Homo sapiens: one gene and its partners. The protein of the gene in region 4 interacts with the protein of the main gene of each other region in a biochemical or structural test. Each region holds a gene or a part of one and is shown on either strand. Other genes may lie near its edges. The genes, in order: SAP30, SIN3A, MAX and MXD1.

The links.
Region 1: the proteins of MXD1 (region 4) and SAP30 form a complex in vitro, tested with the Homo sapiens proteins (one study listed by BioGRID).
Region 2: the proteins of MXD1 (region 4) and SIN3A form a complex in vitro, tested with the Homo sapiens proteins (4 studies listed by BioGRID, with this or other methods).
Region 3: the proteins of MXD1 (region 4) and MAX form a complex in vitro, tested with the Homo sapiens proteins (4 studies listed by BioGRID, with this or other methods).

What each region holds. Positions count from the first base shown.
Region 1 is NC_000004.12:173,366,009-173,373,957, forward strand, and holds the start of SAP30 (histone deacetylase complex subunit SAP30), read left to right. Parts: upstream 1-4,945; 5' UTR 4,946-5,174; coding exon 5,175-5,489; intron 5,490-7,381; coding exon 7,382-7,507; intron 7,508-7,930; coding exon 7,931-7,949. UniProt on the Homo sapiens protein: Involved in the functional recruitment of the Sin3-histone deacetylase complex (HDAC) to a specific subset of N-CoR corepressor complexes. Capable of transcription repression by N-CoR.
Region 2 is NC_000015.10:75,441,680-75,448,702, forward strand, and holds part of SIN3A (paired amphipathic helix protein Sin3a), read right to left. Parts: intron 6,496-7,023; exon of another isoform or gene 6,374-6,495; intron 6,065-6,373; exon of another isoform or gene 5,974-6,064; intron 4,717-5,973; exon of another isoform or gene 4,554-4,716; intron 3,727-4,553; exon of another isoform or gene 1,655-3,726; intron 1-1,654. UniProt on the Homo sapiens protein: Acts as a transcriptional repressor. Corepressor for REST. Interacts with MXI1 to repress MYC responsive genes and antagonize MYC oncogenic activities. Also interacts with MXD1-MAX heterodimers to repress transcription by tethering SIN3A to DNA.
Region 3 is NC_000014.9:65,092,508-65,099,530, forward strand, and holds part of MAX (protein max), read right to left. Parts: intron 1,805-7,023; exon of another isoform or gene 1,309-1,804; coding exon 1,201-1,308; exon of another isoform or gene 1,125-1,200; intron 1-1,124. UniProt on the Homo sapiens protein: Transcription regulator. Forms a sequence-specific DNA-binding protein complex with MYC or MAD which recognizes the core sequence 5'-CAC[GA]TG-3'. The MYC:MAX complex is a transcriptional activator, whereas the MAD:MAX complex is a repressor.
Region 4 is NC_000002.12:69,932,103-69,939,125, reverse strand, and holds part of MXD1 (max dimerization protein 1), read right to left. Parts: intron 6,410-7,023; exon of another isoform or gene 5,933-6,409; intron 3,776-5,932; coding exon 3,661-3,775; intron 1,892-3,660; coding exon 1,732-1,891; intron 1,030-1,731; coding exon 842-1,029; 3' UTR 1-841. UniProt on the Homo sapiens protein: Component of a transcriptional repressor complex together with MAX. In complex with MAX binds to the core DNA sequence 5'-CAC[GA]TG-3'. Antagonizes MYC transcriptional activity by competing with MYC for MAX binding.

The DNA of each region.
Region 1 (7,949 bases), on a different chromosome or scaffold from region 4:
GAGAGTGGAGCATGTTGGCTTCTGAGCTTGGGGTCCTGTGCCACTGCAAGTCCCTGAAGCTGGCCCTTTCAGCAATGTTCTCTTTCCTGACCTGGGTAGCAGTTATACGGATGTGCATTTTACCATAACTGCTTGTCTCCGTTCATTTGTGCCGCCATAACAAAATAGTTGAGACTCAGTAATTTATAAAAACCAGAAATTTATTTTCTCAAGGTTCTGGAGGCTGAGAAGTTCAAGATCAAGATTTGATCTTGGTGTCTGGTGGAGGCTGCTCTGTGCTTCCAAGATGGTGCCTCTTGCTGCATCCTCACATGGTGGAAGAGATGGAAGGGGTAAACTCGCCCCCTCTATCCCTTTCATAAGGCGCTAATCACATTCATGAGGGTGGCCTCACCACCTCCTAAAAGCCCCACCTCTTAGTACTGTTGCATTGGGGATTGAGTTTCACAATGAATTTGGGAGGGGACACACACAAACACTGAAACCACAGCACTGCTTAAACTGGACATTCATGCTTTATACAATTTTCTGTATGATGGCTGAGTTTAAAACTAGATAAAGGAAAGGTGGTGTAAAACGGAATGAACTTTTGCTGTAAAATATAGAATTATTCACATATAGAGATGTATATACTAGTAAATGCATACTTTTTTCTAGAAGGAAACAATAATCTGTTAACACTGGTTGCTTCAAGGGACAGGGATTTGAGGAGATGAGGTAAAACAGGCTTTTGTTTTTCATATGAACCTTTTTGTATTATTTGAATTTTCTACTGTGGTCATGTTGGGATTATTGGCCAATTTATATGTTTTTGTAAATTAAATAAAATTATTTAGTTGCTTATTTTAAAGTAAAGCCAGAAAAATGCAATCATGTTAAAAGCCTATAGGGAAGACAGGCACGGATACATACTTTTTTAAGAATCATATTTTGAACCATTTTAGAAAGCAAAGAGCATTTTTGTTGATATGAACAACCCCCCTATAATTAAGGTTTCATAGATCTATATTTTTTACCTAGTCTACTCTGAGGTAGATTTACTGTGAAGCTAAAGGATTCAAACTTCAGAGTCCCTCACTTGGATAGACCCTTATGAAGTCCTGTACCTAATTTTAATTTTGCATTCATAATTTTACATACTTCTTTAAAAAGACCTTTCAGATTATATAATCTTGAAGCCCCCCTAAAACCTGATTCCAACCTTGACTGTGAGTTACACTCAAATCAAAGAGTTCTTATACCTGCCCTAAATATGAAGATTTGTAGAAATAAGTAACAAAACATGGTTGTAAAAATGTATCTAAACAAATAGATTCACTCAAGATACACTTTAAATCTGGCAGTGAGAATTAACATGTCCCCTACTCCAGCAATCTTTTCAACTTGCCAGAAATGAATCATTTCCTCCTATGTGCTATGCCTGTACTTTCTCTCTATTGTTATTGAGGTTTGTATTATGTGCTTGTTAAGCTACCTGTCTGCCCTACTAGACAAGAAGCTCCCAAATAGCTAGGACCCTCTCAATTATTTTTGTGCCTCCAGGGCCTAGAAAAAGATTCTAGCATGCAACAAGTGACTGTTTAATAGGATCTTTTTACAACCATTGTATTGTGTGTAAAGGAGCCATAGCTACAGTTCTTTACTTGAGTAAGCTTCATATGAAACTGATAACTATACATATACATACATGCACAGCTTAAGGAGATTCACAAAGTACTTATCAGTAAGCATCTTTCTTTTTCCTACTGAATTTACATGATTTGGTCACATTTTGCAGAAGATATAAGCTTTTTTAAGCACAAGAACCAAACAATATGAATTTCATGAACTATTTTAAAAACACATAAATGTACAAAGAAAAATATGAAAATTCAACATCCCACTGTCATGTTTCAGATATTTTTAATAAATAAAAACTTTAAAATTCAGAAGAAACCATCTTTAAGCCATTCCCAGTGTGAAAATTGATCATACAATCTGGATCATTCTTGTCATACCCAACTAAATCAGAATCGAGGGACCAGGGGAGAAAGCAATCAGGGCACACAGCTCTAGCATTAAGAATTAAGTTTTTTACAACCCAGCTGCTGAAACGGCCTGCAGTAACTCTAAGACCAGTTTTACCGAGTAGTTGCTGAAACAATCTCCTATGACTAAGACTGGTTTTATCTACCACTCTCACTCACCAATCAGAGCTTGCCAGCTTCCCAAAACTTTACTATAGTGCCAATGAACCTTCTTTCAAAACAGTAGCAACATTTCTCTTTCTAATAAAACTCTCGACCTTCTCTTTGTTCTTCTGACATACTAAAGACCACTCAGTCTGTGTGTATGTCCTGAACTGCAATTCTTGCTTCCCCAAAAAACCATTAAATTTAGAAATTCATCTCTTTATATTTTATGTTTACTCTGACACCATATACAAATTCCTTGGCCTCCTTCGTTGGAGATGAGCATCACCCTGAAGTTGGGATGTATCATCCCATCCATATATTCTCATTTTTACCACTTAAGAAAATGTATCCATAAATATATAACATGTATCCATAAATATATAATTATTCTGTGTTGTAATTTTTTTTTTTTTTTGAGACAGGGTCTCGCTCTGTTGCTCAGGCTGGAGTGCAGTGGTGCAATCTCAGGTCACTGCAACCTCTGCCTCCTGGGTTCAAGCAATTCTCCTCCCTCAGCCTCCCAAGTAGCTGGAACCCCAGGCTTGTGTCACCATGCCTGCCTAATTTTTGTATTTTTAATAGAGACGGAGTTTCACCATGTTGGCCAGGCTGGTCTCGAACTCCTGACTTCAGATGATCCACCCTCCTCGGCCTCCCAAAGTGCTGGGATTACAGGCGTGAGCCACCACGCCCTACTGTGTTGTAATACTTTAAGCCAGTGTTATCTAATGCAACAGGTACAATTTATTGTAATATTTTGTTTAACCCATTACATCCAAAACATTTAAACATATATAAAAATTTTTAATGTGCACTTCAATATTCTTTTTGAAAATTTCTTGTAGTAAGTCCAGAAATAAAAAAAAAGTCCAGCTGATATATACTTACAGCACATCTCAATTCATATGCTAAAGTTAGAGTTCATAAAATTTAAGTTGGAAAAACAGATTCATATATCTGAGTTGTTGCAAACACACTTAAAAGTATTCCAACAATTGAATCGAGCATCAGGTTTTTGGTTTTTGTTTAATTCAAATTCAATTAACGATTCAGTTTTTCCGTCTCAACCACATTTCAAGTGCTGAGTAGCCACATATGGCTAGAGGACAGCCTACTGGACAGCACAGCTTAAGGAGGTACACAATGTACTTATCAGTCATCATCTTTCTTTTTCCTACTGAATTTACGTAATATTTAAATTGTTTTTCTTTGTCATATCCTAGAACTCAAACGCACAGATACAATGGATACCTTTGATTTTCTGCGTCGATGGCATTTTGCATTTAAAAAGATCATCTGGGTGGGGTGGCGCGCGTCTGTAATCCCAGCTACTCGGGAGGCTGAGGCAGGAGAATCGCTTGAACTCGAGAGGCGGAGGTTGCAGGATCGCGCCACTGCACTGCACTCCATCCTGGGCGACAGAGCAAACTGTCTCAAAAGAAAAAAAAATCATTTATCACTAAATTTACTCACCAAAAGAACTTGCAAAAAAAAAACCCAAAACCCTACTGCCTAAAATATATTTTAAAACGTATTTGTGTTTAAGCAGCATATATCTTTTGATAAATAATGACGCATGGTAGCTAACTAGTAAAGATGCAGCTTTCATATTAGCCACGCCCATCCCTCTCTCCGCCCTCCACAAGCACGTCCCCGCAAGCGCGCAGGAACATACACGCGTACGCGCGCACACACACGTACACACGCGCGCGCCCGCGAACACATACATACAAGCAGGCGCGCCCAAACGCCGGCAGCACACAGGCGCGCACGCGCTTTTCAGGACTCAGGAAATGCGCTTTCTGCTCCCCGCGCCCGGTAGAGCTAATGCAGGGAAGTTTCTGGGAACATTCGACCAGCGTTTGTATTGGTGAGGTTCCAAGTTTCCTTTAAAATGATATGACTCCGCCCTTCTCCAAAACCGTTTGAGGAGAAATGGAAAAGGTTGGGCGTGGAGGTGAAAAGGAGCCCTGTTGTCAACTGGTCCGTACTCCACCTCAGGAGGCGGCCAACTTGGTGCGCCCAAGAATAAAAACATTTCCCTTGTAAGAACATGCAAGTGTTTAGAAACGCCCCCCCACCCCCCCGCAAGGCGTTTGTGAGGGGGACCTGTCACAGTTGAGAAGTCAGGATGGGCGTTTTCCTCCCAGGAGGTGCCCTATTAATTTGCGGCCTCGATAGTTGGTCAAGCCGGGATGTTAGCTGCGGAACCTCCAGGACCGAAGAGCGCCAATTCTCCTGAGTTCTCCTTGGTTTGGGTTTCCCACAAAAGAGTGGTCACACCAAAAACTCTGTCTCCACAAATGCGAAACGGGCTCGAAACTTTTTTTTCCCCACACGATCACTTCCCACACCACTCCCATCCCTTTATGTTTCGCCTCAGGAGTCGAGGAACTTCTCTGAAAACCAATTCTACGATATTCCAGCAGCTAAACACAGCCCGAATTCCCTAGAAACAGAGAGAGCGAGAGAAAACACTGTAAACCCCAATCACACGCTCCTGTTTTCCCGGTACTGAAAAAAAAAAAAAAAAAAAAAAGTGGGTCCGTGGCCGCGCTATGCATGCTAGGATTAGTAGTTCCTCCGTCCCTCATGGCGCGGGGTCAGGGCGGAGCTCAGGTTGACTCTGCAGCAGAGAACTACAATTCCCATGGGGCCGCGCGGCAGAAAGAAAGGGGCGGGACGGGAGGGGGCGCGTCGCGCTTGCGCAGGTCCCGGGGCCGGAGGGAGGCGGAGGCGTAGCGGTCCAACTGCTGAAGTCCCCATGTGACAGTGAGCGGGGTCCCCGCTCCAGGAGACGCTCGAGTCTGCGTCCCGGCCCTCAGCACTGTCCACTGTTTCGGTGCCAGCAGAGACCAGCAGGCCCGGGACAGTTGGTGTTTGGCCGTGCCGCTGTCTAACTTGGTGTGCAGAGTGAATTGCCGCTGCCGGAGCGGAGAGAGGCGGAGCGGCCAGGAGAGAGGGGATTTCTGTCAGCGCCGGCCTCGGGAGCTCGGAGACATGAACGGCTTCACGCCTGACGAGATGAGCCGCGGCGGGGATGCGGCCGCCGCAGTGGCCGCAGTGGTCGCTGCCGCGGCCGCCGCCGCCTCGGCGGGGAACGGGACCGGCGCGGGCACCGGGGCTGAGGTGCCGGGCGCGGGGGCGGTCTCAGCGGCTGGGCCCCCGGGGGCGGCCGGGCCGGGCCCCGGGCAACTGTGCTGCCTGCGGGAGGATGGTGAGCGGTGCGGCCGGGCGGCAGGCAACGCCAGCTTCAGCAAGAGGATCCAGAAGAGCATCTCCCAGAAGAAGGTGAAGATCGAGCTGGATAAGAGCGTAAGTAAACCGCGGGACCGCCCTGCCCTCCCGCCCCTCGGTGGGGCCCCAGGAGCCGGGCAAAGGCACGGGTTGTCGGCGGGGTCCCCCAGACAACCGCACTGGCTGCAGTGCGGTCTCGTGGAGTCTGTGTTTGGAAGCAAATAACAAAGTCGCTGCAACTCCTACCGCCACCCCAACACACACACCACACACAGGCTGTCGTTCCCCTCTTCTTTCCCACCCTGGCCCCCAACCTCCCGCTGCCTGCGTCTCTCCCGCGCAGTCTTCCCTCTTCCTTCTCCTCTGCGACCGGGACACGAAACAAAGGGGACCGGCGCACTGAGGGCCCAGAGTAGTTTTCTTGCAGCCCGGCAGCTCTTCTGGAATGGAGGCGCCTTTGTTTTGCTGCCCAAGCTGGTGTTTGGCCCCAGGCGGTACTAAATCCCGTCGTCTAGGAGAAAGCGGAGGACCTTCACGAACAAGGAAGATCCTGTTCTTTTCTGTGTTCCGTCTCCTCCGGAGCGGAGTGAGAGGGAAGCCGAGCTCACCCGCCGCCTGGCAGTGAGCCGGGGTTGTAAACGGCGTTTGCGCTGTCAGCTCCGAGGGCAGCTACTCCGATGGTGGGGAGCACGTAGCCTCTGCGGTTTTGCCATCCCCTTGGCAGCCATCAGGATTTTTTGCACGTCTTTTCGTTTGACCATCTATGAGGTTTTTAGAAACAGCCGTTGCTACTTTTGGGAGATCTGGCTAGCGGTAAATGAATAACATGGTATCGAGAACCTACCACAAGTCCTGCATATTTTTATCTTGCGCTTGGCTTAGAAGTAAATGTAAAAGCCTGTTAGCTCAGTCCGTGTTTGTTTCAAATGCTAGTCTACAGCTCGCAGGAGTATATGTAATTAAAGTTTTTGAAAAGTTTATTTGTGACACTTTTTGCCCGTTTAAACAGTTTTCAGTGTTATCCATGAGAAACTCTTCAGGTGAACTTGCATAATTTCAGATTGTTTTGGAAAAATGTGTTATAGATAAATACATTGATTTAATATTCAGAAAAATGTATAACTGAAATTTAAATATAGTTTTGAAGTCGATGGCTCATTTGTGAAAACGAATGGTTTTGTATCTGGACTATAATTTGGGTATTCAGTTAGAAAGACTGGAAAGCATACATTATATTACTAAAATATGCTGTTCTTTTAAGTAGAGAAAGTACTGTCAAGTAGCAAAACTGTGAGCAACATCATCTTTCCCCTCATCAGTTAAAAATTCAACATGAACTAATTCAGGTCATCCTTACTGCTATCTGTTTGTTTATTTATTTAAGACAAAGTCTCACTCTGTTGCCCAGGCTGGAGTGCAGTGGCGCGATCTCGGCTCACTGCAACCTCCAACCACCAGGTTCAAGTGATTCTCCTGCCATAGCCTCCTGAGTAGCTGGGATTACAGGCTACTGCCACCATGCCCGCCTAATTTTTTGTATTTTTAGTAGAGACGGGATTTCACTATGTTGGCCAGGCTTGTGTGGAACTCCTGAGCTCAAGTGATCCACCCGCCTTGGCCTCCCAAAGTGCTGGGATTACAGGCGTGAACCACCGCGCCCAGCCCCTCACTGCAATTTGATGACAAAACCCAGAGGGTTGGAATTTCTCATTCTCCTCTCCCTCCCTCCCTTACCCCCTTCCCCAGATGGAACCAACCCCTCCTTCCCCATCCACCATCCTTTTAACAGTATTCCAGACATCTTATGTTTTAGCGTATAGGATTTAAACGTATAAATATTCCATTATCTTAACAATGGCCCATCTTGGCTGTCTTTATTTTTAAGAACTCACTGTGGCATATGTGTTTTACTAATACATAGACACATTTTACTGTAATCATAAGCAGTGTGTAAAACTTTTCTGTTTCAGGCAAGGCATCTTTACATATGTGATTATCATAAAAACTTAATTCAGAGTGTTCGAAACAGAAGAAAGAGAAAAGGGAGTGATGATGATGGAGGTGATTCACCTGTTCAAGATATTGATACCCCAGAGGTAGATGGAAGTTTTTTATGCTTAATGTAAATCCTAAGTAGTGCATTCTGAAGCCTTTATAAAAAGATATGAACAATCTTTTAAGTGTTTAAAACATTTGAGAAATCTGAAAATGAAAGCAAAATTAAATATAGCCAGTTGACATGCATTTACACAGTTTGAATTGTTACATTTTAGATTGACAATTTTTGCAGCTCTGTTGTCACATAACTTACTCTTTTTTTGACCTCAGTTTATATTATTTATCCCCAAAAGATTAAATTCTTTAATAATTTATGTTGGATTATATAAATTTTTTAAATTTTTTTTGATTTTGGAAGTAAATTTTATTGTGCTGAAGTTAAAATGTTTGTTATTATACATATCAATGATAAATTTTCAACAAATTGTATGAACTCATTTATACATGTTAATTTTTTCTAGGTTGATTTATACCAATTAC
Region 2 (7,023 bases), on a different chromosome or scaffold from region 4:
TATCACCTCTGGGTCTTTTTTTCCCTTTCTGCCCATCAAATGAAATACTTTGAAAACTCACTTCATAATTTTGTTGGAGAGAACAGTCATCTTCTTTGCTCCATAATCATAAGCATTCTCATTTTTAGACTAATAAATGTCAATCAGAATGAACAATCCAGGCTGAGCGTGTGGCTCTTGCCTCTAATCCCAGCACTCTCAGAGGCCGAGGCGGGTGGATCACGAGGTCAGGAGATTGAGACCATCCTGGCTAAAACGGTGAAACCCCATCTGTACCAAAACTACAAAAAATTAGCTGGGTGCAGTGGCACGCACCCGTAGTCCCAGCTACTCGGGAGGCTGAGGCAGGAGAATCGCTTGAACCCAGGAGGCAGAGGTTGCAGTGAGCAAAGACCATGCCACTGCACTCCAGCCTGGGTAACAAGAGTGAGACTCTGTCTCAAAAAAAAAAAAAAAAAAAAAAAAAAAAAAAAACTGATTTTTTTTTTCATTTTTACATAATTTTTCCTTCTAACCATCTTTATACATATACGTAACTTTGGCACCTGTCCACTTACAAACTGCATCAACTAAGTTTTGGTGTACAAATATCTTGAAAGATGAAAGAATACTATCATACATCTTTTTGGCAAAGTGCAGTGGTTTTGATTGTTTTTTTTTTTCATTTCTTAAAAATAGAAATGGGGTCTCACTATGTTGCCCAGGCTGGTCTCGAACGTCTGGGCTCAAGCGATCCTCCCACCTCAGCCTCCCAAGAAGGTGGGATTGCAGGCATATGCCACTGCACCCAGCCCAGTTCTGATTCTTATAAAAAGAAAATCACATTCTAGCTGGATGCCTATAGTGCCAGTTACTTGGGGGAACTGAAGCAGGAGAACAGCTTGAGCTCAGGAATTTAAATCCAGCCTGGGCAACATAGTGAGATAGATCCCATCTTTAAAAAAAAAAAAAAAAAAAAAAAAATTCACCGCTGGGCATGGTGGCTCACGACTGTAATCCCAGCACTTTGGGAGGCCAAGGCAGGTGGATCACCTGAGGTTGGGAGTTCAAGACCAGCCTGACCAACATGGAGAAACCCCATCTTTTACTAAAAATACAAAAAATTAGCCAGGCATGGTGGTACATGCCTGTAATCCCAGCTACTTGGGAGGCTAAGGCAGGAGAATCCCTTGAACCCAGGAGGCGGAGGTTGCGGTGAGCCGAGATTGTGCCATGGCACTCTAGCCTGGGCAATAAGAGCAAAACTCTGTCTCAAAAAAAAAAAAAAAAAAAAAATCACATTCTAAACTCATCTAGGGTACAGTCACATATGTATATGGGTGGAGACAGAATCTTGCTATGTTGCCCAGCCTGGTTTTGAAGTACTGGGCTCAAGTGATCCTCCCATCTCAGCCTCCCGAGATGCTAGGATTACAGGTGCACGCCACCATGCCTGGCTGAAGACTCTTATTTTACAACTTGGTTTATATAACTTTACCGTCATCCTAACAGTCTAGAGTACTACTGTCACACAGCATTCATCTACTAGTTCCTCTGAAATGTCTTCTGTAGTCAGTTTTCTTCTCTTTGCCATTATAGGAGGAAGATGAAAAACTATGGATTTTTAAATATGTCCAATGAAAGCTTAAAAGTTGAAAAATAGTATAAAAATTACCATGTACTCCTTCACCTAGATTCTCCAAATGTTAACATCTTACATAATGTTTAAGATGGTATCTCCCAACTTCTTTTATACTTTCTTGAAAGATGCTGTAGGCTGGGCATGCTGGCTCATGCCTGGAATCCCAGCACTTTGGGAGGCTAAGGTGGGTGGATTGTTTGAGCCCAGGAGTTCGAGACTAGCCTAGACAACATGGCGAAACGTTCTCTCTACAAAAAAAATACAAAAATTAGCCAGGTGTGGTGGCACATGCCTGTAGTCCCAGCTACTTGGAGGGCTGAGGTGAGATTGCTTGAGTCTGGGAGGCGAAGGTTGCAGTGAACTGAGATTGCGCCACTGCACTCCAGCCTGGGTGACAGAGTGAGACCCTGTATCCAAAAAGAAAAAAAAAGTTGCTGTAAGTTTTGGGAAAAGCAATAAGAAAACTGAAGGGCTGCGGTGCACACCTATAGTCCCAGCTACCGAGGATGCTTAGGAGGGATGATCACTTGAGCCCAGAAGTTTGAGGCTGCAGAGAGCTATGATCATACCACTGCCCTTCGGCCTGGGCAACAAAGCGAGGCCCCATCTCTAAAAACTGAAGTGTAAAACTAATGATTTATTTCACTACTGCATATCCTTTTAAGCAATTCTATAATTCTCCCTTTGTCATATTATTTTAGTCCTCTTTAGCATATTTGAGAATTGATGAGTAATGATGAAATAATTCCTAGGATGATGAAATACCAAAACATTTCAATATACAGGAAAAATAAGATCAGTAAAACTCCACAACATTGTTTCGATGTACAAGTGGTAATAGCTAAAATGAGTTTATTCCTTTGGAAAAAAAATAAATTTTCAGGCTGGGCATGGTGACTCATGCCTGTAATCGCAGCACTTCGAGAGATAAGAAGTTTGAGGCCAGCCTGGCCAATATGGTGAAACCCCATTTCTACTAAAAATACAAAAATTAGCTGGGTATGGTGGTACACACCTGTAATCCCAGCTACTCGGGAGGTTGAGGCAGGAGAACCAGTTGAACCCAGGAGGCGGAGGTTGCAGTGAGCCAAGATCGCGCTACTGCACTCCAGCCTGGGGATGGAACAAGACCGCATCTCAAAAATAAAATTAAAAATAAAAATAAATTTTCTCTTTGCTGTTTTGAAGACCTCCAATAAATAAAAGTCATGAAATATACATCTTTACAAGTAGTTAGTACTGCTTTAAAAAAAAAAAGCAAAACTCAAAAACTAAAATTGAGTCCAGACCAGGTGCAGTGGCTCAGGCCTGTAATCCCAGCACTTTGGGAGGCCGAGGTGGGCAGACTGCTTGAGCCCAGGAGTTTGAGACCAATCTGGGCAATACAGACTTCGGTGACACTGATGTTACCCAGACATTTCTTACTACTGTAGGTAGAAAATGAACAGAAATTTAGTTAAATTCAAAATGTATTAATAATTGTTATCAATGTTGATTTTCTGATTTGATCACTGTATTGTGGTTTTAAAAGATGCACTTGGGGAATCTAGGTGAAGATTATAGGGCTATTATTTGTATTATTTTTGCAACTCTCTTTGAAGTCTAAAATTATTTCCAAAGAAAAAGTTTTTTAAAAATTAAGTATTAGGCCAGGCATGGTGGCTAACACCTGTAATCTCAGCACTTTGGGTGTCTGAGGCAGGTGGATTGCTTGAGTCCAGGAAGACCAGCCTGAGCAACATGGTAAGACCCTATCTCTATTTAATATAAGAAATATAATCTTTCAAAATATCTATAAGGCCAGGTGCAGTGGCTCATGCCTGTAATCCCAGCACTTCGGGAGGCCAAGGCAGGTGGATTGCCTGAGGCCAGGAGTTCAAGACAAGGCTGGTCAACGTGGTAAAACCCTGTCTCTACTAAAAATACAAAAAATTAGCCAGGCATGGTGGTGGCGCCTGTGATCCCAGCTACTCAGGAGGCTGAGACAGGAGAACTGCTTGAACCTGGGAAGGGGAGATTGCAGTGAGCTGAGATCGCGCTACTGTACTCCAGCCTGGGCGACAGAGCGAGACACTGTCTCAAAAAAAAAAAAAAAAAAAAAAAAATTAGCCAGGCATGGTGGTGGGTGCCTGTAATCCCAGCTACTCGGGAGGCTAAGGCAGAAGAATCACTTGAACCCAGGAGGTGGAGGTTGCAGTGAGCTGAGATTGTGCCAAGCCGAGATTGCACCACTGCACTCCAGCCTGGGAGACAGAGCAAAACTCCGTCTCAAAATAAATAAATAAATAAATAAATAGCTGGGTGTAGTGGCGCATGCCTGTAATCCCAGCTGCTCGGGAGGCTGAGGCAGGAGAATCACTTGAAGCTGGGTGTGTGTATGTGTGTGTGTGCAATGAGCCGAGATAGTACCACTGCACTCTAGCCTGGGCAACACAGTGAGACCTTGTCTCAAAAAAAAGAAAAAAAAAAAAAAAAAAGAAAGAAAGAAAAGAAAATAGAGCATTACAAAGAATAGAACTTGAGATAGTTCTTGAAAGGACAGGTGGAAGTGTCACTCACATCTCACACTGCTTTTATCACATTAGCTCTTCTGCTCCCACACAAACATGGGCACATAACATCTTTAACCATCTATGTATCCTCTACCATGCTCAGCATACTGCTTTGTCTTGTCTGTGGTGGAAACCAAATCATTCATTCATGTATACATTCTCTAATATCTACTGAGCACATACTATGCACCAGGTGTTTTAGGAGCTGGAGATACAACGGTAAACAAAAATCTCTTCCCTCAAGAAGCTTATATTTTAGTGAAAGATGACACAATAGACAAAGTATAATATTTAGAATAGTAGGCAGTGACAGGTATCAAGAACAAAAGGCAAGGAAGAGTTTTTGAAATTGTAGATAAGAATGGTCAGATAATACCTACTGATAAGGTAACTTCTGAGTAAAGGAAGTGAGGGAGCTAGTCATGCAGAAATTAGTGGAGGAAGCCTTCTAGGCAGAGGGGACAGCAACCGCAAAGACCCTCATGTCTTTGTGAGGGCTCACATGTGCTTGACATGTTCCAAAACAGCATGAAGGCTGGGTAGCTGAAGAAAAACGAAAGAAGGACTAGTCAGAAATGTAGTCAGAGAGGTACTAGGATAAGGGTGGCAGGCAGAGGGTACATCAGATTTGTTCTTACAGGTGTTTTTTTATTTTTTGACACAGGGTCTCATTTTGTCGTCAAGGCTGGGGTGCAGTGGCACAGTCATGGCTCACTGCAGCCTCAAGCTCCTGAGCTCAAGCAATCCTCCTGCCTCAGCCTCTCAAGTAACTGGGACTACAGGCACGCGCCAGCATGCTTGGCTAATTTTTAATTTTTTTATAGAGACAGGGTCTTGTTATGATGCCCAAGCTGGTCTCAAACTCCTGGACTCAAACGATCCTCCCACTTGAGCTCCCAAAATGGTGAAATTACAGACATATCCTTTTTTTTTTCTTTTGAGACAGTCTCGCTCTGTCGCCCAGGCTAGAGTGCAGTGGCACGATCTTGGCTCACTGCAAGCTCCACCTCCCGGGTTCACACCATTCTCCTGCCTCAACCTCCCGAGTAGCTGGGACTACAGGTGCGTGTGCCACCATGCCCGGCTAACTCTTTTGTATTTTTTTTAGTGGAGACCATGTTAGCCAGGATGGTCTCAATCTCCTGACCTCGTGATCCGCCTGCCTCAGCCTCCCAAAGTGCTGGTATTACAGGCATGGGCCACCGCGCCCAGCTCATTACAGACATATCTAAATAAGGACTCAGGTTTAATACTCAGACTGAAATGGAAAGCCACTGGATGGTTTTAAGCAGAGAAGTGACACGGTATGACTTAGGTTTCAAAAGAATCACTTGGGTTGCTATGTTGAGAACACATTTAAGAGCCGCAGTAACAAAACAAGGAGAATAGAATCCAAGCTAGAGATGCACAGGCACTGACTAGGGCAGTGGAGATGCAGATCCTAAGTGGTCTAATTCTGGATAGTATTTTGAATATAAAGCAGTAAAATTTACTGATGGACCACATATGAAAAAGACACAGAAGAGTCAACAATGTCTCTTAGTTATCCAAGAGGAGACATCGAGTGGAGACCTTGAGTGGGCCACTAAACATATTAGTCTATGGTAGAGGGAGAGATCCCCGTTAGAGTCATCAGCATTGTTTGGATTTTAGAAAGGTAATATGGTACATATACTGTATCATCTCTCTCTCCCAGCTAGGGCTGAGTAGCTCCCCATAATCAAGCAGTCACATTTCTGCATCATGCAGGATAGCCCAGGTCAGGCTGTACCCCAAAACTAGTTGTGGAACTAGACTTACCAAAAAACAAAAACTCTTGCATTTCAGAACTGCAAATAAAGGATGTGGACCTGCATATCCTCCAATAGCCCATATGTCAGCAAGCCTAGCCCTGGAGGACACCAAGAAGACTCATGAAGGGTCCACTGTCATGCTGAGAAATATGGGTAACATACAAGCATACAAGACAAAAAGTGGGTAGGGAAAACAAAAGCAAAAGGGGCAAATAAGAAATACATCAGGTAGAAATTGCCACCCATGACCGGGCACGGTGACTCACGTCTTAATCCTAGCACTTTTGAGAGGCTGAGGCAGAAGGACCTCTTGAGCCCAGGAGTTCGAGACCAGCCTGGGCAACACAGCAGGACTTCACCTCTATAAAAATATAAAAAAAATTAGCCAGGTGCGTGGTGGCACACACCTGTAGTCCCAGCTACATGGGAGGCTAAGGTAGGAGGGTCGCTTAAGTCCAGAAGATCAACACTGCAGTGAGCTGTGATCATGCCACTGCACTCCAGCCTGGTGACAGAGCGAGACTTCGTCTAAAAAAAAAAAAAAAAAGACATGAGAAAAAAAGACATTATGCGGCCGGGTGCAGTGGATCATGCCTGTAATCCCAGTACTTTGGGAGGCTGAGGCGGGCGGATCACGAGGTCAGGAGTCTGCGACCAACCTGATCAACATGGTGAAACCCTGCCTCTACCAAAAGTACAAAACTTAGCCAGGCGTGTGGTGGCGCCCCAGCTTCTTCTTCGTGGAGGCTGAGGCAGGACAATCGCTAGAACCCGGGAGGCGGAAGTTGCAGTGAGCTGAGATTGCACCACTGCACTCCAGCCTGGGAGACAGAGCAGGACTCCATCTCAAAAAAAAAAAAAAGTCTAGTGCCTAACACAGTATCTGTGACACAGTAAGTGCTCAATAAATATCAGCTTTTATTTTTCAAGGGGCGAGGAAGGTGTATTTTGAAAAAGCATATACTATTTATTTTTTTAAAGGCCTACAGAAAGTAAAGCTTAACAAACTCTTGGCTGGTGGATTGCCCAGAAAAGAGAGAAAGCCATGAAAAGCACT
Region 3 (7,023 bases), on a different chromosome or scaffold from region 4:
CTTAGTGTTGTACCCAGGAAGGTTGTTATTCCAGGTAAGTACCTTGGTTTAAGGTCATTAAATCAAGTCCACACTAAGTAGGCTTAACCCATGGCAAATTCTGGTTTTGCAATACCAGGTATGTACATGGCCTGTTTTGTTCTTTATAAAGGTCAGAACTTCTCCATGTTTACGCCACATGGAAAGCCACACCTTAGATAAAGTATAGAGGCCATAACTTACCAGAGTGACAATATAAAAAATGAAAGCATAAGGGTTCCAAATTTGATCTTGGATAACCAAACAAATCCAGGACCCCCACCACAGAACTAAATCAAAGTGCACCCAAAAGCAAAGATTGTTCTTAACAGAATAGTTCCTTCTTTATAAAACACTGGATCACTAAAGCAAAAACACAGGTCCTCTTCCCAGCTTGCCAGTTATTCCAATGAATTGCTACAGACAACTACACTCTCTGTCAAGGATGGAACTAGCCATGCAGATGTTTTCTCCAAATTCCAGGGAGTGACCCTAACCCATAGGCTTTTACTCAAAGCTTCTAATTTTGTTTTTCAAATGTAGAAACAGCTGGTGCCTAGCCCTCCAGGGAAAACACTAGGTTCCAGAAGGGAGTGGGGAAGAATGGTTATTTTTTTTCTGTTTCACATGAACATGTCTCTTCACTCAAGTCTTTTGTCCCACAGCTTAAAATGCTCTTTATACGCCTTGGAAATAACAATTATTGGGGCTGGAAAATCAATGGTGCCCAGGTTGTTTTTCACATACATTACACACATTTCTGCAAGTGCTCATTTACAATAAAGTATTAACTTTGAACCATAGGAAAGGAATTCTCATGGAGGTCTAGGGTATTAATGACCTCTGGAATCTTTACTGTTATCCCAAACGAACTCTTGGCCACTCTTTATACTATAGTGTATAGTTATAATTTCTTGAATTTATTACAAATAATACAAATTTTAAAAGATAACTCCTACCATTATCTCACAAATAGCTCCATTATATCTGACATATTTTGTTAAGGATAAACTGGAGTACGTAAGGTGTGCAGTGATCCTCCAAACAGTCAAAAATAAGGCAACCATGCTACCTGAATATCTCTGACTACATTTCCTTCCCAATAGGTGAGTGCTCTGCTAAGCTCTGCAACAAGTTCCAAGCTAGTAGTGGCCAGCTACTCAGCTTTCTCAGGAAACTCACCTTCTCTCCTTGGAGTGATGGGACTGAGTCCCGCAAACTGTGAAAGCTGTCTTTGATGTGGTCCCTACGTTTTCGTTCCAGTGCATTATGATGAGCCCGTTTGTCAGCCTAGAAGAATGGGAGAAAGAACACATTAGGAATGTCACTCCTTTTGCTTGGTACAAGGTGGGTGGGGTACAGCCTGGAAGTACACGCTGTCAGCACTGTCCCTGGCGAGTGGACTGGGAAGGATTTCTCGAGGTGGGCAGTTAGGAGTCTCCAGAATTAGGCTCTGCTAAAGGGGGAGAAAGGGGTGAGCAACGCTTGCGACAGGAACATCCAAAGTAGCTCGATGCATCCAGCTCATGCATAAGTAAAATAAAAGTTATTCAGGGGGACAAAGTGTGACTCTCCTGTAACATCAGTGGTCCCCCCCAACTTGCTTATGTGACAGAAGAGCCACCAGTCTGTGGTTAGGAAGTGACTAGAGAAAGCTCCAGTGGCCCCTTCTTAAGATGTGATCACCTCCACTGTAAGAGATTCCCCAGATGGGTGTCCAGGGGAAGAAAGAGTTAAGTCACTGGTGCTTCTTTAATGTGAAACCATCACCATGAGTCCCAAGCCCACTAAAAGGCACTAGTTTAAGACCTTCTCACCAAATCATACAACAGAAGCTAAAACCTCTATAAAACCTAGATGCATGAATCTGAGATCATTATGACAGAGCTGATAAGATGACAACTGAATTCTGAGTTCCTATTTTTTAAAAGTAGATCCAAGGTGCTATCCTGCCAAGGGCTTCCTTGCACACAGGCAGTGCCTGACAGGCAGTTCTTAGAGGGCACAACTTCTGACACCACATACTCAGAATAAATTCTCTCAGGTACCTGTGGCAGGTCAGGCTAACTGGCAGTATCTAAATATCCAAGTCAAAGCCTTAGCCTGCTTGGAATCACAAAGAACGGTCAGCTGGAGATGGACCAAAACTGCCAACACCAAATCAGGAATGGCAAAATGCTCTGGCTTCAGGCAGAAGAGATAGCGCTGGAGAGCATGATAAGAGCACTTCAGCAGGTCCCCATCAGAGGGGTCTCCCCTCCAAATGGAACACAAACAACCCAAAGCAAGAAGAACTTCATCACACCTACACTCTAGGAATTACGGAAATTATGCTCTGAACATTCACCTTGAATGCACAACGTTGCACTGAGCTAATCTAGAGAGCCAGTCTGTACATGGGAAGTTCAGGTAGCTTAAATCTATACAAACAGAGGGCCAGAAATTCAAAAAATGGAACAAGAGTAAATAACTTGGCTTAGCACAAGAATAATGCTGCCTCACATTAATCCTTGTACTAGAGAAGATGTACAGACAAAAATCTATCAAGAGTTGTGAAAACGAAAGGACTTGAAATTCTCCTGTTATTTAATCCTAAAAGTCCCAGTCATTACAGAGGAAGAGGAGACTGGGAGCACCTGTAGTCATCTGAGTTACTTCCTGGTCTCTTAAACATAATACCTCACCTACAGCTCTGTTGAACTGGACATGTGGTTCCCATGACAACCATGGTTCTCCATAGCATATCTCTCTTTTTGGGGCAGATGCCTGGAGCACTTCTAAAGTTGTCCTAATCTTGTTAAGTCTGGATTCACTGTAAAATGAATGTTTACTGAACTATAGTGACATGAAATATGAAGCTGAGAGGACAGTCAAGTTTGGAACACCACATAACCTGAGGGTAGAGGTAGGTACTCTGTATCATACAACTTTAGCGCAAAATTATAGATGCCTTCTAACAGTAGCATGAAATAGTGCGACAGAATTGAACCTATTTAAGTATCTAGTCCTTTTGAACTTACTGTTGTTCCCTCTGATCATCTACATAAAGATAAGTTGGGCTGCGACTATACCTAAGGAGCTTAAAGGCCAAGAGACAATATTTGGCATGTGTCTGCGGCTCCTGTTTGCTATATACTACCTAAGGTGGTTTATTTACATGCAAATTAATTGCCCATCTTTGGTCTCCAGAGCAGCCCAAGATACTCCTGTCTACTAAATCACCCTGATTCTTGGCCCTCCTCCCAGCTAAGAGCTGTGCACCAGAATTACCCACAATCCCTCTTGTTGATACAAATAAAATTCTAATTGTCTGTTTTCTTTCTGGGAGAGCCCTGCAAATCTCAAACAGCTAGAATGAAGTTGCACTTGGTTTCACGTGGACCTGCACTAAAGGGGTGGAGCTAAGTATAATCTAACACCAAAATCATCCCCACAATGCACTACCCCCTCCCATTCACTGAGCTCTGAAAGGACTCAAATGGACAAGTCTCTCGGTTGGAGGATTGTAAGTGAACTTGGCTGTAGATCATGAGCAGAAATCTTGGCTTCTCATCTGGGGAGCCAGCCAAGTTTGAGAAGTTGGCTCAACAAGGAAAGGCAGCAGTCCACTGCCTGGTAGAAAGCCTGGGCTGGGGACTGTTGTTCTCAAAGTAGTGGATGGAATTTCTGTAGTGGTTCCAGGCCCAATTTAACTAGCAGAAGAGTGGAATCTTACACCAATCCCTGCTGCCATGTCCATCCCTGAGCTACTAGTGGAGTCAATTTTAAATCTCTCAGAGACAATGGCAAGGATGTATTTTTCTCTTCCCCAAGCTTGATTTGAAAGAACAAGTTAAAAACATGCAGAACTAACAAGCCTAATTCCAGGCAACTGTGAATTAAATGTTATCACTAATGTTTTGAAAGAGCACATGAAAAACAGAAAAACCTTTACACAAGGCTGAGAATTCTCTGTGGGAAACATTTCCAAACCACAGATCCACCCAGACCAATAACACTGCCCGCGCCTCATCCCCACCCCCATTGGAGGACTAGTTTGCAGGCTTTATCACTGCCTTGTTAACTGTCTTTGCTTGCTGGCAACCCTTTTTGAGAGGGCCAAGATTTCAGAGTTGAAGAAGAAAAACTGGGTGAAGACTCCCAGTGTAAGGCATCTAATATCCTCCCCCAAATGCAAAACTGGTTTTAAAAAACAAGCCCAAACAATTGTCTTGAACAAATAAAACTCTACTCAGATGAGCCTGTACTGAGAATGATGTTCAGTAATGAAAACAAATGGTACGGAAAACCCCCTTGTGGAATTAATTAGGCCCTATTCTAGGAGACCACAGAGGTATTCTTGGACTGTACAGCAGGCTCCCAAACATCTCCCCTACACATCCTATGGTTACAGTGGCTGGATGCTGCCCACTCTTCTAGTACGCTGGATTTGTACGTCTGGATGTCTGCCAGAAAACCCTTCCTCCAGGGCATCCCTAACAGAAATACTAAGGGGCTATGCAGTGGTCCACAGATGCTCAACAGAAACTCCCGCACCAAATCACTTCCAGCTTTGACATCTCTGCCAAAGTTTTTATTCAGCCTCTCAGTTATATTTCTACCCAACTTTCCACACTGGTAGACAGAATAAAAATCTTCACCTACAATTTGTCCATCTTTGACACTACCAAGCACGTGTATCTTAAGTGTTGTTAGATGTTGAAGACAAACATTATTTTGTTAGCCAAGAAGTTGCTATGTTGGCAAGAAGTCATCTAGGCTAAGGAGGTCTGTTCAAAATTGAGGGAAATCTCTTAAAATTATTTCCTTCCAACTTACTGCAGAGAGACTGCATCTTTGTTCAAGGCATCACATCAGTCAGTAATCTTATTTCCTCCAAGTTCTAGGCAAATAGCACGGGGAAATAAATGCTTCATTATTCCAGGATGCACAAGGTTCTCCAGAACAATGCCATGTCTTACAGGCTACCTGACAGCTAACCCCACCTATAAGGGGAACCATCTCAATTCTAATACAGAAAATTCTCAGCATATAGGGAATTAGTTGCCCACTCAATATTTACTACCTTTACAAAATGTGAAGGTTGTATTTTAGAGGGAAGCTTGTGTTGCTTATGATTCTTATCAAGCTATTCTTATTAGAGACTAAGGACACGAGAATACACAGACCCAAAAATCTCATCCGAAAAGATCTATTTCTTACTTCTGATAGATAAGAACAAGATAGGATAAAGCTCAATTTCTAAGCAACTTAAAATATTCATTTTAATCAACCCAAAAATTATAACATAAAATAATAGGCAGGTAGGATGGGATAAACTCACCAAGCTCCCTAAGAGAAAGACATGGATTTCAATTTTCCAATACCTGTCCTGCTTGTAGCTGATTGCCTGGTATACATTTCCAACATTATCTAATGTATGTATTTGTTTTCAAACTTTTTTCTTTTGGTGCCTAAAATAACTGGCAAATGCTATAATCCAAACAGGGCCTCATACTATAGCCATTTCAGAGAAGGATGCCTTGGTCAGGAAATTTTAATTAAAAACCAAGCTGAATTCTTTGACCAACTATTTCACCGTTACTGGCATCTTGGAAAAATTCTTTTAGACATAAGAACAACTTTTACCCTAACACAGGCACATTTAGGAACTAACTCTGGCATTTGTTATCACTGTAAGCATCACTGTCAACACTCTAAGCAGAGAAAAAGTACATGCATTGTGCAGCACTTTTGCCATGCAACTGACTGCAGGTAAAACAGACAGTAGTTTCCTGAGTGAATTCCAATCTCGGAGGCTACCAAGCTCGTTCTCTTCTGAATATTCCTAAAGAAGCAAAGAGCTCTGAGAAGTTAAAAATATTTCATGCCAGAAAGGTCCAGAAGTGGAATTGCACAAATCTGTTTTCAAACCCCTCACAAGTATACTGCAACTGCAACTCAGTCAGGTGCCATCAAGGATGGTCACTGGAAAAAAAATTGCATTTCCTGACCAACACACTAACCCATACATTTCCTGTATACTTACACTCTTTCCTAAAGAAATTTCCCAAACAGAAATAAAGCAAAAGGAAGCCCTTGCAATATAATATACCTGTCCCACAAATTTATCTTTAAAATGCAACCTCTTCCCTCCAAAATATAATAAAAATAACATCAGTGGGATTTTGCGATGTACTGAATTTAGTAGTAAGAATACTCTTTGGGGTTACTTCCTTTAACAAAGCTTACTGGCCATTGGAGAAGCTGTTTTCCGTTTGTACTGAAGCAATAGAAAAAAATATTTGCCAAATCAGTTTCACTTTCTGTTAGAGTTAGCCTAACTTCCTAACTCTCTTCTCAGTATCTTACATTTCTCATGTAGTAAGGCCTATATATTGTAGTGACATTATAAAACATACATGAATGTTTTTATATTAGGATCCACAGAACCCTTTTCAAATAACTTTTTCAACATCTTCTGTAGTCCTGAATACCTAAGTATTTGGTTGTTCACAGTCCACATCTTTTTTTAAACCTTTTTTCTAAGGCAAAACTTAAGAATAGCTCCCTCTTAAATTTTAAAAAATATATTTATTATCCATATTAAATATTGAGAAGTAAGCAGATGCATTCACAGAGGGGAAAAAATGGAATCCTTTTTACCCTACACAGTCACAATAGTTGTTTGATATACTATAAAATTTGTTTATAACATATCTGCTTTTTCTCTCCATGCTGTTGTAATTACATTGTGCAGAGTAATATTTAGAAATATCAACAAATAGATGTGTTAAATTAAAAACAAAGTGTCAAACCAACTTCCTTTGCCTACCCCCAAAATCAAAAGGAAAAATCCTAGGCACCTTAACAGCAAACTAAAAACATCTAGACAAAACAATGAGATTAGCATTCCAGGAAAGCAGAAACATTATAATAATTTAATAACAAATTTATATCAACGATCATATGGATGAAAATTTTGAAAAGCAGAAAGCTTTCAAGAACTGCGAGCCAAAATTTCAC
Region 4 (7,023 bases):
GTTAAGTGGGAAATGGAGATCTCATTTATCTCTGAGGTAGGAAAAAAAAATGTTCCAGAGACAAGTAGCATTAACAAAGTTGGAGGGGAGAATGTGCCTCGAGATAGCAGAACACAGCGAGGTCCCAAGAACATCGCACAAAAATAGATTGTACCGTTTTGTTTGTGAGAACAAACAATTTGGAACTTTGATGAGCTGTGCAACCCCAGAGACACACTATCAAGGTGTCCATTTTAAAGTGAGAAATACTGCTCCCATCCACACGCGGCGCGTCGGGGGAATGAGCATGCGCGGTGTGAAGGGCGTGTTTTCTAGAGGTATTCCTGACTTCCTCACTGGTGGTGAGGTCCATGGTTAAGTGCTCTTAAATGCTGCTTTCAAAGCTTACTTTGGAGTTCTGAGATCAGGATCTCAATTTCAAAAGTTTGTTTCCTTCAGTTTCCTAAGTACAAGACACACTTGGACATTCCTCCTAGGCAAGTAACACAGTAAGCCAGAAAACTGGAAGAAAGGTCTGGGAGAGGACACGAGGAGAGCAAAGAGGGGGATTGCTGAGATGTGGACATTGCTTATTCGGTCTAAGAATTCTTGGATGCTTCAAATTGATTGGAATGTATAGTCTCTCAGAGACAAATTTTTATGGCGAGAAAAAGAGAAGCTAGTGGATGCAATCAGAAACCCACAATCCTAAGCACCTCCTTGAAAACAGTTACAAAGCTGATTTTGGTCAAGGTGGGACACTGAAGTTTACGTGCAAGGGAGTTGTGGGCAGGTCCAATACGTTACCTAATCAGAACCAACAGGGAGAACCTTCAAGGAGACAGCCGCAGTGCCCACTCTCTTAGAGACCAAGACACGCCTTGTGACTGTCCTGCAGCTTTATTCTCTTGATGCTGGTGCTGGAATAGCCCTCATCACTGCCGAGGCTCTGCATGCTGCCCCGCTCGTCAGAGTCGCTCACACTGCTGCTGCTCCAGTCCAGATCACCTGTGAGATAGTCCGTGCTCTCCACGTCAACGTCGATTTCTTCTGCAGGGAGGACAAGAGAGAAGGACATTGATGAAAGCGCTCTGCAGAAAGCTCAGGCGTGGTGGCTCATGCTTGTAATCCCAGCACTTTGGGAGGCAAAGGCGGGTGGATCACTTGAGGTTAGGAGTTTGAGACCAGCTGGGCCAACACAGTGAAACCCTGTTTCTACTAATACAAAAATTTGGCTGGGTGTGGTGGCTCACGCCTGTAATCCCAGCACTTTGGGAGGCCAAGGTGGGTGAATTACTTGAGGTCAGGAGTTCGAGACCAGCCTGGCCAATATGGTGAAACCTCATCTCTACAAAAATAGGAAAATTTGCCAGGCATTGTGGTGTGTGCCTGTAATCCCAGCTGCTTGGGAGGCTTAGGCAGGGGAATCGCTTGAACCCGGGAGGCGGAGGTTGCAGTGAGCCAAGATCACACCACTGCACTCCAGCCTGGGTGACAGAGCAAGATTCCGTCTCAAAACAAAACAAAACAAACTAGGCTGAAAACTGACACCAATCAAACTCTTCTGGGGTTGTCACCTAAGTGTTAGCAGGGAGAAGGAACCTGTCACTGGAGGTCACACTGTTCGACTTCTCTACATCATACCCAGTGTCTTAGTTCTTCTTACACTCTGCCTCCTGTCCGCAGTACTGAACCCCTGCTCTGGGGTTGGGGAGCACAAGGGAGACAGGGAGGAGAGTGAGAGAGGCTCACCCCTGTCGGAGTCGGAGCGCTCCGAGGAGACGGTGGAGCCGATGCTGTCCATCCGGATCCTCTCAATGCCCAGCTTCTCCAGCTGCCTCTTCAGGTGTCGCTGCTCTCGCTGAAGCTGGTCGATTTGGTGAACGGCTTTTCTGTCACAATCTTCAAGTTTCTGCAAGTCAAAGGGGTAGTTGTTGGGCCCCACAGGGAGATCTCTAAATGGGCAATGGCCCCCGCATCTTCCCTTCTAGCAGTGGAATGCGCCACACTTCCTCAGACGCCTTTCGGTGCCACTCATCAAGCTTCTCCCTGAGACAGGAAGTCGACTGGCCAGTGACTCCTGGCTTCGTCTGACTCTTCAGCATCGCCAGTGCTGGGGGTACTTGTCCTGTCACAGGGATTCTGGGGGTGAGCTCTCACATACTGGCACCCTGGTAGCCCTCAGTTTTAGTATCAGAAAGACTGCAGGCAGCAGTCCCCAACCTGATCTCCCTTGTTTGCAGCAATCCCCTGAACACCTGATCTCCGGACTAGAAAACTGCACTTGATGGGAGCTTAAGAAACACGCTTCCATTTAAAACTATGTTTATTCAAGTACATGTCCCAATTACATAAGCACTTTTTTGTGTCATGCCAAATCTCAATTAACTTCTGTTTGTTAGCAGGAAATAATAGTCCCTTTTGATGTCCTGATTCTAATTTGTCCAACAGAAGAGTTTAGAAAACACATTTCCATAGAATACTCATTTTTATAAATCTGCCCCCAGCTTCTCATATTCTTCAGATAATTAAGAAGATTGTTTAATTGTAGCTGTTTTGCTTTAAATAGAGGTTTTCTCCCAGAATTGTCATGAATGCAGGCTTCTAACCATAATTAAAGTAACATTTGTCCAACTATAATATGATTATACAAACATGCTAAACAGGGATTTTGGCTGTGGCTCTCAAGACTTTGAATCCAATTCCCCTTACCCTTTGCTATTCAGGTAGCAAAGAGAGTGTCAACTCTGTGCCCGATACCCTAGGAGGTGCTGGGGCTGTGAGGTGAGCACAAAGACCCAGTCCCCTCCCTCGTGGGGTGTATAGTCTAAGGATTGAGACAACACAATGGTCACACAAACCACTGTCAAATGTCAGTTATGACAGGGCTAAGAGATACCCAGTGATGGGACCACCTGTCACAGGAAGGAGGTCACTGAGTTGGGAAAGTCAGCGAAGGATTATCAGAGCTAGAGAGACTTGCACTGTGATCTGAAGAATAAGTAGAAGTCCTCTAGGTGAAGAAGAGAGAGGAAAGTGTACCAAGCAGAGGGAAGAGCATTGACAAAGGCCCTAAAGTAAGACAATATGACAGTGCCAGGGACTGGAAGAAGGGCTGGAGAAAGGGGAATTGGGGAACAAGATGGTGCTGCAGAGGCAAGTGAGGACCAGGCAAGGCAGAATCTGGGGCAGACCAGGTGACAGAGCTTGTCCTGAGCCACAGAAGAATTTTAAACAAGGTCACGTGTTGATTTGCACCTTGGAAGGACTGTTCTCAGGAAGCATGGAAAGCAGACGGGAGGGACCCAGAGGGATATAGGGAGACCTCTGAGGATTTTATTGCAGTAGACAGTGGGGATGAAGATGGAAGTAGACCGGTTGCAAAATATTTAGGCCTTGGAGATGGCCTAGATATATGGTTAAGGAGCAGGAGCTATCACGGACTCCTGAATTTCTGGCTTGTACAACTGGATGGAGAGTTGGATGGACCATTTAACCTCTGGTGCATGGGAGTGAGAAACACTCAGTTGGGTTTTGAATATGTTGCATTTGAGGTACCTGTGATTCATCCAATAGCTAGACTGGAGGAGTTCAGGGGAGAGGACTGTCCTGGAGATGTAACAACAGACAAACCCTCACTGAACAGGTAAAGATAAAGCAGCATCCCAACAATACACTTACCTTTATGTGCAATTTGGCTTTTGTTAATAAACTCAACGTAGTGTGTCGACTTGATTCGGGTCCAAGTGGCACCAGCCCCTTCAACTTCTCCAGGCACAAGCGAAGATGAGCCCGTCTATGAAAACAAGACCACAGTAGCATTTGAGAGTTTCACAGTGGGCCAGAAGCACCCCAGGCAGAATGAGTTCTCAAAGAGTGTGAAGTTGCCCAGGCCTTGCGATGGCAAATGCTACCAATGACCTTTTGCTGAATAAACATATTTTGAACCAGACAACTCTGGTGAAAACCAATGAGAAGCAAAATCCAAGGTTTTCGAAGCTAAGTCTATTGATAATACAAGTGCTGGGGTAGGGAATAATATCTGCTATTATATAGTCATTCACATGTGTAAATACTATATACAGTAATGGTCCCTGACTCATGATGGTTCAACTTACAATTTTTTAAATTTATAATGAGTTTATTGAAGTATTAAATGCATATTAGACTTGGGATGTTTTTTATTTATGATGGGCTTCTTGAGACATAACCCCATCATAAGTCAAGGAGCATATATATCTGTGGAGTTATTTGTTGAAGCTTTATTTGTAATAGCAAAGATTGAAACAACCCAAATGACCACCCAGGAGGGAACTGGTTAAATAAATTATGCTACATCCACACCGTGTAGTACTATGTAGCTATCAAAAAGAATGAGAATGTGCTTTATGTCCTATTAGGAAAGATTTTCCAGATATATTGTTAAGTGGAGAAAAGCAAGATTCCAAACTGTGAGTATACCATGCTATCTTAAAGATGGAGGAAAACAAGAATCTATATTCATGTTTTCTTGTATGTAGACAAACTCTGGAATGACACATAAGAAACTGGCTGGGCAGGGAGAAGGCAAGGAACAGTCAGACAGAGATAAGGAAGGAAGTGATGGGGGTTTTTACTGAGTCATTTTTTATACTTTTTGTTCTTGGAGTATGTCAGACTGATGCAATGGCACGGAGTGGGAGAGGGAGAAGGGCTGGATGAAGCAGCAGCCACGGCAACTGACTGAAGAGAGAGCACGAGAGTTGCTCCAACTGAGAAATTTACATTTCCTTGAAATGGTTTGTGCTTTATTCTAGAACCTGGAAAATTCTATGAATGTAAGAAGCAGCTGAGATTTGGGGGTTTTGCTTAAGCTTACCACCTCCTTAAAGCCTTCCCAAGCCATCCTAGCTCACAGTGATTCCTCTATTTTCTAAGCACCACTTAACTGTTTATATTATTCACTGGGAAGTTCACTGTACTGCCTGACTTGTTTCATATTTCTTACTTAACCATTCATTGCAGTCTCCTTAGAAAGTCAGGATTGCAGCTTAATCATTGCTGTGCTGTCACCGTGCCTCAAACACACACATGCTTAATAAGTGTTTGCTGAATGGATTATGTCATCTATTCAACTAGACTTTAAGCTTCTAGAGGACAGAGTCCATCTCTACTGCATCTTTGCACCTTCAGCAGTGCTCAGAGTCTTCAGGTTTTAGATAACATTCATTGCCCACACACAACCTACTTGGAGCAGAGTTCCCTGGGGTCTAGGAGGCTCCCCTCCAGCTGAATTGGGAAACAATGCAATGCCTTATAGGTTTGCCCTTTTTCCTCTTAAGAATTGTACTGTAATAGCAAAAGTTGAAAATATAGACCAAAGAAAGGAAATGGCTTCAGAAAGCTATAGGACAGGTGAATATGCATGATATTAATGTAAGAAGTCAATTCACACTCTCCAGGGAGACTTCAGGATGTTCCCCTAAGGCAGGGCTAGTAAGCAAGGCATTAGACTTCCTTCCTTCTGAGCCTCCTGCCTCTTCTAGGTCATGAGGAAGTTGTCCTAAACTCTCCAAGGGTGCTCTAAGGCTTGGCAAGCTTGGGGAGTACAGCATTCATTTCTGAGCTAGGAAGAGGTAATAGCACAAGGGCTTTACTATTTTGTAAGTCTTTCACTTCTTCTGAAAAACCTGTCCATGTGGCAGAGTCAGAGCAAAGACTCATGTTACAGGTGTGCTCCTCCCACTACTGCATGTGGTGGGGACCAGGGAAGGGAAGAAAACTTGTATGTAAAATATACTTGTTCATCTTGGATAATATTCTTCAAAAAGAGCCATGAAAATAGATCATGTTATTAGAAACACTATGAGAAAGTATAATTTATACATTTATAAATTTGTCTATTTCTTGCCATAAAACTTATAGACTAATTTTCTTTTTTTGTTTTTTTTTTTTTTTTTTTTTTTTGAGACAGAGTTCTTGCTCTTGTCGCCCAGGCTGGAGTACAGTGCCGTGATCTCAGCTCATGGCAACCTCTGCCTCCCAGGCTCAACAGATTCTCCTTCTTCAGCCTCCTGAGTATCTGGGATTACAGGCGCCCGCCACCACGTCCGGCTAATTTTTGTATTTTTAGCAGAGATGGGGTTTCACCATGTTGGCCAGGCTGGTCTCGAACTCCTGACCTCAAGCAATCTGCCTGCCTCAGCCTCCCAAAGTGCTGGGATTACAGGTATGAGCTAATTTTCCAATTAGAAGAAAAAGTTCAAAAATTAAAATTATATTTAGATATTTTTCAGCCAGCTTGTTATTTGCAAAGACTGCATGATTCAGAACAGTGTCATTTTAGTACTTTTATGATGTTGGTTTATATGCAGATATGAGTGTGTGAATTTTTTTAGGAAGTTTGTCCACTGATAAAAATATAATAAAGTCATCTTTTGATGCATTGTCATTTCTAGCCTTATAGGAGTCTTGCCCAGAAAGTGCAATTTTCACTACCCAAATGTGGGTTTCCAAAGAACACTCCTAGTCGTGAAACTAGAAATAAGCCATTTGACTAATTCCAGCTGAGACTAATACTTGTTCATTCAGTGTTTTCTGGCCTAGTTCTACAAAAATAGGACCAGAATTCTTTCTGGATTTTTGCAGAGACCCAAAGCCAACTCTGTCTTTGGCAGTGTCTGCCTTGGCCTTCTCCGGCGCCTCACTGCTGCAGCCTGATGGCTGCCCCCTGCCCACATGCCACTGCCTGCAGACATCCCCACACTGGTGCCCGGGCCAACCACAGGAGAGCAATGAAATATATTAAGTAGACTCAGTTCTATCATACAGTAGTGAAATCCAATCCCTGAACCAGATAAAAAAGCAAACAGACCCCTCTGTTATGTACAGCTCCTACCAAAGCTCTCCAACCCTGACACACACACACATACACAGACACACATACAGACACACAAACTCCTGGGATCTAGAATCCCTCTGCCAGCCCTGAGTACCCACGGAGCTCCCAGATCCAAAACAAGCAGAACAAACACCCGTCTCAGCTCTCTTTTCTCAGTTCTGACT